2 separate regions of the Homo sapiens genome follow, and region 1 is linked to region 2. The links come from fine-mapping of genetic effects on gene expression. A gene starts in region 2. The other region holds a variant in brackets. All regions are shown on one strand. Distances are between the middles of the regions.

What was found. PIP is the estimated chance that this variant, and not a neighbour inherited with it, causes the effect. A credible set is the group of variants that fine-mapping cannot tell apart.
Region 1: its variant is the best candidate, but not a certain one, in a credible set for the expression of THBS3 in whole blood (INTERVAL, PIP 0.90).

The regions. Positions count from the first base shown.
Region 1 is chr1:155,227,150-155,232,149 of GRCh38, reverse strand. It overlaps the pseudogene GBA1LP and the pseudogene MTX1LP. Among named protein-coding and RNA genes, the nearest start is that of GBA1, 12 kb to the left of the region's middle. RefSeq lists a silencer at 4,682-4,731 and an enhancer at 4,637-5,000. The variant G/C (reference allele first, on the strand shown) is at 2,626.
Region 2 is chr1:155,205,282-155,210,281 of GRCh38, reverse strand. THBS3 (thrombospondin 3) reads left to right here and starts at 2,385. Exons shown (of 23, transcript NM_007112.5): 1 at 2,385-2,484; 2 at 3,876-4,082; 3 at 4,966-5,000. The coding sequence starts at 2,406. It overlaps MTX1 (metaxin 1), which reads right to left and starts at 1,587. Exons shown (of 8, transcript NM_002455.5): 1 at 950-1,587. The coding sequence starts at 1,477. It overlaps THBS3-AS1 (THBS3 antisense RNA 1), which reads right to left. Exons shown (of 6, transcript NR_183238.1): 6 at 4,793-5,000. RefSeq lists a silencer at 1,038-1,237 and an enhancer at 2,601-3,384.

The sequences.
Region 1 (5,000 bases), 22 kb before region 2:
CCTCAGCATCCCCCACCACATCCTGAGTAAGCTTTGTCCCCAGATAACCTCTTCAGCATGATCCTTAAATCTCCCTAAGCCTCAGTTTCTCCCCTGTGGAATGGGGGTAAGAATCTCTTTCTCTGAATGCCCCTGTGTTAGGAAATAATTTAGAATACTTCGGAAACAAAAAGCTCTGTTCACACCTAAGCAATCAGGGCAGTGGCCCTGGCCTTGCCAGGAACTTAGGCTTTTATCTGGATCCTCTTTCCAGGCCTCTCAATTAATTCCCCAGGTCCTTAACCTTTGGGAAATTAGAAATTAGGAAGAGTGTCCCACTTCTGACACTGTGTTCCCTCTTGGAACCTGACCGTCAATGCTAGAAGAACCCTTGGAAAACATGCTGGCCCAGCCCTCTAGTTTTACAAATAAGGGAGTGCACAGCCCTGAGAGGTTACATGGCCTGCCCAAGATCACGCAGTCAATGGCAGAGTAAAGAGCATAGCCTAGGCCTCCCCACTCCTCTAGTAATGCTCTTTCATCTTCTCCAACCTGGCTCTAAGCCTTGTCCATCCTGAGCCCCATATCTAGCCCAACCTAGTCCCTGAAAACAAGAAGTGGCCCTTAGAAATCTCTCTCCAGTCCCACTATCAGAGGCCAACTGCTGTCTTCCAGTCTCCTTCAGCCTGTGCTCCTCTCCCTCCCTGACTGACAGGCAGAAGGTACCGTGCCTCTGGATATCCCCACAGTGCCCTGAGCTGCATCTCTTGCCGACTGCTTTAATACATCACAGTGACATTGTGTGTGTCTCTGCCACCAGACTATTGCTCCTTGATGCTCTGGGTCACCTGCATCTAGCATGGCATATATCTAGTGCTCAATAAATGTGTATTGTACGGAATTGACTGAACTTCTCTCACTGGCAGCCCCCTCTATCCAAATCACCCACCTCTTTTTGAAGGTGGGTGATGATCTTGTGTGGTACTGAGGTGACCTCTCCATGACTGGTCCAAAGGGCAGGCAGGGTTCCTGATACTGAGAGAAAAGTATACCAACCAGGACCTTAGCTGCCTATCCATACGTAGTTGCAACACATTCCTGCCTATCTCCTGCTTCTCCTCTTGTACACACCCTTCCTCACCCCCAAGGGATACTGGGTACCTGAAGGGCTCTGCCAGGGGTTGCTGATCTTGTGCTATATGGTGCACAAGAAACTTTTAAGAAAAAAGAAACTTTCAAGACACACTTTCCAACCACGAATTCTATCTCTGCTCCTTTTCATAGCAATAGGTTTTCTTTTTCTTCCCTCCACACTTAAACATCCATTCTCTTATCACCCACCCCCATCAGACTCCTTCCCCTGTGTTTCTTCAGCCACTGCTCTGACCAAAATTTGAGTGACCAAAAGTGGTGTCAGACCCAGTGACCATTTCTCTGCCTGCATTTCACTTGACCTTGAAGCAGCAATTAATCTCCATAATCAGCATCTTCTTGAATTTTTCCCTTTGAGGACATTGCTCTTCTACTTTGTGCTCTGGTTATCCTTTACAAACTTTTACACCTCTCCTGAACTGGTTAACAGTAGAGGGCCCCAAGGGTCTCACGTAAGCCTTCTTTGTTTTTGTTTTTTTTCTTTTCTTTTATTTTTTATATATTTTTTTGAGACGGAGTCTTGCTCTGTTGCCCGGGCTGGAGTGCAGTTGCACGATCTCGGCTCACTGCAAGCTCTGCCTCCCAGGTTCATGCTATTCTCCTGCCTCAGCCTCCCGAGTAGCTGGGACTACAGGTGCCTGCCACCATGCCTGGCTAATTTTCTGTATTTTTAACAGAGACAGGGTATCACCATGTTAGCCAGGATGGTCTCGATCTCCTGACCTCGTGATCTGCCCACCTCAGCCTCCCAAAATGCTGGGATTACAGGCGTGAGCCACTGCTCCCAGCCGTCATTTTTATTTTATTTTATTTATTTTTTTGAGATGGAGTCTTGCTCTTTTGCCAGGCTGGAGTGCATGGTGCGATCTCGGCTCATTGCAACCCCCGCCTCCCAGGTTCAAGCGATTCTCCTGCCTCAGCCTCCTGAGTGGCTGGGACTACAGGTGCCTGTCACCATGCCTGGCTAATTTTCTGTATTTTTAGTTGAGACAGGTTTTCACCTTGTTAGCCAGGATGGTCTCGATCTGCTGACCTCGTGATCTGCCTGCGTCGGCCTCCCAAAGTGCTGGGATTACAGGCATGAGCCACTGCACCCGGCCATCAATTTTTTTTTTTTTTAAATGGAGTCTTGCTCTGTCACCCAGGTTGGAGTGTAACAGTGCAATCTTGGCTCATTGCAACCTCCGCCTCTTGGGTTCAAGCGATTCTCCTGCCTCAGCCTCCTGAGTAGCTGGGACTACAGGTGCATGCCACCACACCCGGCTAGTTTTTGTATTTTTAGTAGAGACGGGGTTTCACCATGTTGTCCAGGATGGTCTCAAACTCCTGACCTCAAATGATGTGCCTGCCTTGACCTTCCAAAGTGCTGGGATTAGAGGCGTGAACCACATTGCCCACCGTAAGCCCTCTTTTCTACTTCCACTCTTTCTGTAGGTGGCCCTACTACTAACGTCCATGGCTTTAAGTACCATCTTTCTATGTGTTAATGCATAA[G/C]TCCAGCCTTGACCTCTCTTGAGCGCCATCCAACTCAGCATATCTGGTTGGATGTCTAATGAGTATTTCAAATTCAACATGGCCACAACTGAACTAACTGAACTCTTTTTTTTTTTTAGGCAGAGTTTTGCTCTTGTTGCCCAGGCTGGAGTGCAATGGCGAGATCTTGGCTCACTGCAACCTCTGCCTCCAGGGTTCAAGCGATTCTCCTGCCTCAGCCTCCCGAGTAGATGGGATTATAGGCCCCGCTACCCGGCTAATGTTTTTGTATTTTTAGTAGAGACAGGGTGTTGCCATATTGACCAGGCTGGTCTGCAAATCCTGACCTCAGGTGATCCCCCTGCCTCGGCCTCCCAAAGTGCTGGAATTACAGGCGTGAGTCACTGCGCCCGGCCACACAACTGAGCTCTTCATTCCCACCCCAGCACCGGTTATTTTTCCACTGTTCCCATCTCAATGGCACCTCCATTACCCATTTGCACATTCCAAAAGCCCAGGAACCATGGTGACTTCTTTTCCCATATCCAACACAACCAATCCTATCTTGAATTCATCCACGTCCCACCACCTCCCCAGCTACCTAGTTCCAGCCACCCTCTCTCCACAACCTCTGAATCAATCTTTCACTTTTCCCAGCAATCCATTCTCCACTCAGCAAAATGATGATAAAGCACGTCACATCAAGGCTCTGCCTCAATTTAATGGCTTCCCATTGTATTTAGAATCATCTCCAAGCTCTCAGAGACTATGGTCAGCTACAATCTGGCCCACCTTCTGTTCCAGCCAAATTTCCTCACAGCACAAGGACGTTTGCACCTGCTATTTTCCAAGCACGAAACCCTCGGGCAGATATATCTGGTGCTGTCACCTAATTTCAGGTTTTAACTCCACTCTCACCATTTCAGTGAGGACCTAATCCCCATCGCAGTCATTCTATCACATAGCTTTATTTTATTTTATTTTATTTTTTTTTGAGATACAGTCTGGCTCTCTCACCCAGGCTGGAGTGCAGTGGTGTGATCTGGGCTCACTGCAAACTTCCATCTCCTGCGTTCAAGCGATTCTCCTGCCTCAGCTTCCCGAGTAGCTGGGATTACAGGTGTCTGCCATCACGCCTGACTAAGTTTTGTATTTTCAGTAGAGACGGGGTTTTGCCATGTTAGCCAGGCTGGTCTCGAACTCCTTGACCTCAAGTGATCCACCTGCCTCAGCCTCCCACAATGTTGGATTTACAGGCGTGAGCCACTGCTCCCGGCCACATAGCCATGTTTTAAGCATGTATCACTATCTAAAATTATTTTTTGTTTATACGTTTGTGTCGTCCTGTAGAATGTAAGGTCACAAGATCAGGGACTTGCTCATTGCACTGGGTCTAACACACAGTGCTTCCTCAACAAACACTCGTTAAGATACTAACGTGGCAGAGTGGGGCCTTGTAAACAGTTTCAGGACCCTGTGCTTGTAAGAGCAACGTGGTGCCCTCCCAAGGAAGACAGGGAGGATGCAGGAGCACTGCCCAGAGATGGCGTCAGGCTGCAAGACATCTTGAATAATTCACCATCGTAACAACCCAGCCTCAGGAAGAGATGGGGCAAGGCCAGAACGAAACATTAGGTAAGAGGCGGTGGACAATGGGATTCCCACAGGGCAGCTTTTGGGCACTGGACGTTCCCTAACCTGAGGCTCTCTGAAGAGGAAGGTTAGGAATCCTCTCAGCTTCGGTGGGCTGGACTCACTGTGGGAATTCAATCGCCCCCCCCCACCCACTAAGGGTGTGCTGGCGGGAAAGCGCTGAGACGCATGCGTAGTTCTCGCGTCTGGCACCCGCTCCCTTTCCAATACGCTTGCGCCCCGTCTGTGCTACGGATGGTCAGGGAGAGTTGTCCGTCTTCAAATGGACCAATGAGACTTGTGGAGGGGCTCTGAGTCCCGCCTCTGGATGAGTGACCGTCTCTTTTCCAAGTGAGGCCCCGCCCCGCCTCCCCAGGGCTGCTTTTCTCGCGGCACGGGTGGTGGGGCTGCTTCTTGACTTCCGCGCCTAGTGCGCAGGGCCCCATTCTCCAGTCCCGCCCACGCGCCTTTGGAGGCTGCGGTGGGATTTCCTTTTGCCTTCGGTTGGGGCTGCTGTTTCTCTTCGCCGACGGTAGGCATTATAAATATTTCGCCCTTTGAATTTTAGCTCTCCCCTCCCGGCGTTCGCACTTAGCCTTTTTCATCATTATCATTATTTTTAATGGTAAGGATGGTCAAATTTTACTAATGAAGCGATTATAAAATCTTCAAGTCTTTGTATCCACTTGCTTTTTGAGGGCTGGAGTGGGAAGAAAGGTATATAATTCATTCATTCTTCGGACATGTGACAAACGTTCACGGAG
Region 2 (5,000 bases):
GAAATAACATTTATTGAATACCTTATGTGCCATTCCCTATACTTAGTATCTTAGTCTCGAAAAAAAAGGGGGAGTCACTACCATTTCTATTTTACAAATGGACAACACAGGGCTCAGAGAGATTCCGGACATGTCTGTGATTACAGGACAGCCAGGAAAATCCTTTCCTCTATCTCCTCTCTTGCCATCTACCTGGTGAACATCTATCCTCAGAAGCTTTTCCTAACCAGTATCCCTCTTCTTGGAAGCACTGATAATGCCCTTCTCTTTGGCAGTATCTGTGGTCTGTTCCTACTTTAACTTATATGTGAATATTTTATTATATTTATTTGCTTACCTATCTGCCTTTCTGTAAACTCGAAGGGAGGAACCAAATTTTATTCATCTTTGCCTGGCAATGTTTAATATTTGGAAGAAATCTAATAGATCCTCTTTAAAGCAAGGAGTCAATGAATAAATGAAGCAAAGGAAGTCTGATTGCTAAGCTCTTTATACAAAGCCTGGCTGTGAGTCGTTTGGTCTAACAAACAATAGCCTCAGTAAATGCTGTTAAGTGAGGAGGAAGAGGAGAAGGGGGCTGAGGAGAAGGCAGGAATTCCAAGCTAGAGTAGGTCCCTGAGACAGTCCAGCCTAGTAAACCTCCGAATGGAGAAAAAAAATGCCCAAAGAGAAAGGATCTCCGCAAGGTCACACAGCCAGTGAATGGATGAGCAAGGACTAGAACCCATCACCTGAACTCCCAACCAGGCGTCTTTTCATTGCTGCATTAAGCCTAGAAAACTACAGCATAGGGCACTGAGGCCATATCGGCCACGTACGCTCTTTGACTGCCTCAGTTTCCCCCACTGCGCCCGTGCTGAGTAGCCCTGGCAAGGTTTGGATGCTTGGCTAGTTCGGCCCCCTCCCCAGTCATCAGGGCACAGCAGAGGGCGCCGGCGCCACCCCTCACCAGCACGGCCAGGCTGTCCAGGTCCACTGACGGCAGCCCCCAGCCCCCTGACCAGCAGAACAGCTCCATGGGCGCCGCCATCTTGCCCACCCTCTGTCCCGGAAACACTTCCTTGTGTGCTTCTGCCCTCCCCTGCCTGGGCCCGCCCCCCGCCACCGCCCCTCCGATCGTTGCGGTCAGGGGGCCTGGGGAGATCCCCGGGGAGGCGAGGCTTCTTCTGGCCCGACTGGCAGCTGAACTGCGGGGGACTGGGCCGCGGGCCTCGGGGGAGGGCGGCCGCCGGCCCATCCAGAGGTGGCCCACGTAGCGGGACAGCGCTGTCGGCCCGGCGCGCCTCGGAGAGTCACGGCGCCTCGTCCAAGTGGAGCCCCGAACCCCTGAAGGCGCGGCAGGCTCTGGAGAGCGGGGTCTTGTGCGCCTGGGCCAGGTCTGGGGGCTCTTGCCAAACTGCACGTGGCCTGTACTGCTCCAGGGCCCCTTGGGGCTCGTCCCCGAGCGGGGACTGCGGGGGGGTCCCCCGAGCAGCATGTTTTCCACAGCGCGTTATGTTTGGAGCGGGCCCTGCGCCGCCTGTCGCCATGGAAACAAAACAGGGGCGGTGGCGGCGGCCGGAGCGGAGGCCGGGCTGGGGCTTGGGTGGGGGAGGGGAAGAGAGGCTCGCAGGCTGTCGCTTAGGTGACGGGAACTCAGGCGCCCCTCTGCTTCATCCGGGTCACGGCCCGTCCGCTAGTACCCACAGTGTTCCACAGTCTGGTCCTTGGCTCCTCGCCTGTACCCCTGGTCTTCTGCGCCTGTCCCTGGTGTCCCTTTCCTCTTTTTTGGTTTCTTCACTCTGACCTCACTGACCACTGCTTTAGATTCTCCCTTCAGTTCCCGTCAGACGCTTCCAGACTCCCAAGCTTTCCTACGAATGAGGGAAAATGGAGAAACAGGCACTTGTCAGGGGACCCCCCACCCTAATAAAGAGCACTTGCTCCGCCAGAACAGCAAAATTCATGCCATGTGGGCATCCCTGGGCACTATAGCAAGCTAGTTGCGGCCACTCCCTTGGCATCCTTTCCTGCCAGCTGTGGAATAATGCCCACTGTCTAGCACTGCCCCTGCCAGGGGTTCTTGCCTTCCACAATCGTGGCTTCCAGAAAACAGTGGCATTCGGTAGCGCTGTGTGCCGAGACCCCCAACAATGATGACTGCGGAGAGGGAGGCACCTGGGGGAGGATCATTAGGGAGAGGTAGAAAGCAGGGAGGCCTCCAGGATTCTTTCCCAGTGCCCCTGGTTCCCAGAGCTGATGATGCCTCCAGGGTGATTGGCAGCTCTTTGTTTCAGCCCCCCCTCACCCGCCTGCTGGCCCCCCCTCCAATTCTGTCCCTCCGCCCCCCGGCTCCTGCTCTCTCCGCCTAGCCTTTTCCCCTCCCAGCTGCCTGCCTGCCAGGGGTAGTGAGCCGGCTGAGAGGCATGGAGACGCAGGAACTTCGGGGGGCCCTGGCTCTTCTCCTCCTTTGCTTTTTCACATCTGCCAGTCAGGATCTGCAGGGTAAGCCTGTCTCCATCCTCTTAGACCGCTCTCTGCTTCTTCCCCATTTGCCCTCAGCCCAAGTAGCAGAGAACATGTGGGCAAGGGGAGAGGGGAAGAGTCCAGAAATTGAGCCAGAGGAAAACTTAAGACTGCCTAGAGTTGGTGAAATTATGGCCTGGTGGAGAGGAGTGGGCACCGGAGAGTAGTGGGGGAGCTGGAACAGGACAGGGTCAGGCATGAGGCCAGGGCAGAGGACTCAGGAACTGGATGCTCAGGCTGCCTGGCTGGGGTGGTTCCTGAGCATCTGTAGGCACCCTAGGGTCTGGGAGAGCAGCCTGAAGGTGGGCGTACTGTAGGTCCCTGGGCTTCGTCCCCCTGGGCTCCTGGCTGCCCAAGGACAGGGCGGGGGTGGGGACCAAGAAGCCTGGGCTCTCCCGGAGGTCTGGTGGTGGGATGGGCCGATGGATGTGGGAGAGGTAGCTGGAGCAGATGACACAGGCATAGATTCTTTACTGGCTGGAGGGAAAACCACAGATTGGCCAGGACACAGGAGGCAGAGGAGCTGGGTCCTACATTCCCGTGGGAGATAGCCCAGATGGTGGGAGGGTTAGAGTCCTCAGTGGGCAGCTGTTCTTATCCAGAGCGAGTGTGCTGCGCCCCTAGGATGGGAGGAGGGGAACTAGGGTGTGGAACGAGCCAAACCCAGGAGTGGAAAGAGAAGCTGCCTTCCATTTCTACGTTGTGGACACCAGGTGCCACTCCTGTGGGGGATCAGCACAGCATCTCCTTTGCGCCACCTGGTGGGGGCATCTCAAATTTGTGGGGTGCTGTTTCTGTGTTTCCAAGTGAGTCTCAAACCTGCAGGTTCCTGGAAGGTAGTAATAGGCAATAATGGGGAAAGGAAGGCACAGTGCCTCTGTCCTCTGAGAGCAACAAGGGTTGAGGTTTTTTTTTGTTTTCGTTTTGTCTTTTTGAGATGGAGTTTCACTCTTGTTGCCCAGGCTGGAGTGCAATGGCGCGATCTCGGCTCACTGCAACCTCCACCTCTCAGGTTCAAGCGAGTCTCCTGCCTCAGCCTCCTGAGTAGCTGGGATTACAGGTGCCCGCCACCACGCCCGGCTAGGTGGTTTTTTTTTCTTTTTTGTTGTTGTTTTTGTATTTTTAGTAGACACGGGGTTTCACCGTGTTGGCCAGGCTGGTCTCGAACTCCTGACCTTAGGCGATCCACCTGCCTCAACCTCCCAAGGTGTTGGGATTACAGGTGCGAGCCACCATGCCCAGCCAAGGGTTGAATTTTGAGGTGACTAACGCTGCCTGGTGGTGGGGGTAGGGGGTGATGTGGGCTCGGGGGAGGGCATACCTTAGCATTTGATCCCATTCTCTAACCTTGATAACCCCTGCCTGACCAGTAATTGACCTGCTGACTGTGGGCGAGTCTCGGCAGATGGTAGCTGTGGCAGAGAAGATCCGGACAGCCTTGCTCACTGCTGGGGACATCTACCTCTTATCCACCTTCCGCCTGCCCCCCAAGCAGGGTGGTGTCCTCTTTGGCCTCTATTCTCGCCAAGACAACACTCGATGGCTGGAGGCCTCTGTTGTAGGCAAGATCAACAAAGGTGACTGGTGGGCATCTCCTTTCTTGCAATGGTGACCTCCTTAAGCACTCTCCCTCATCCCTACTTCCCAAGTGCTTCCTCATTCTCCTTGGCCTCCACTAGGGACCAAGGTCCCATCAGGCTGTGCCCAGACATCAGGGGCACCTGGTATGGGGTGCTTATAAGGTGCTTTAGGAGCCCATGTACCAAACAATAGGGTGAGGCTTGAGTCCTGATATTTATAGGGATGGGAGGTTGTACTTGGGGATGCCTGGAAGGAGGGTGAGGCATGTCTCTGTGCCTCAGCGGTGATACAGAAAGGTCTTTCAGATCCCTGGAACAGGTCAGTGGCCACAAAACCAGCTGTCACCCTAGGAGAGGATACAGTCATCTGATACCAATGAAGACTAAGAAAGTATTTGTCTCTAAACCAATTATTTTTTTAAATGGAGTCTTGCTTTGTCACCTAGGCTGGAGTGCAGTGGTACAATCTCAGCTCACTGCAACCTCTGCCTCCTGGGTTCAAGCAATTCTCCTATCTCAGCCTCCTGAGTAGCTGGGACTACAGGTGCCCACCACCATGCCTGGCTAACTTTTGTATTTTTAGTAGAAACAGGGTTTCGCCATGTTGACCAGGCTGTTCTCGAACTTCTGACCTCAAGTGATCTGCCCACCTTGGCCTTCTAAAGTGCTGGGATTACAGGTGTGAGCCACCGTGCCTGGCCTCTAAAGCAATTTCAAAAACATTTATTGTGTACCTATTAAATACAAGGTGTTGAGAGCCACATAGTAGAATTAGGGATAGGGGCCCTAGAGATGTGGTATCTAGCAGAGTTGATCCAAGGCTCAGCTGGGAGGCAGGGGGTGGGGGATAGCGCCCATACTGATCTCCCCTCCTGGGCAGTACTGGTGCGATACCAGCGGGAGGATGGCAAAGTC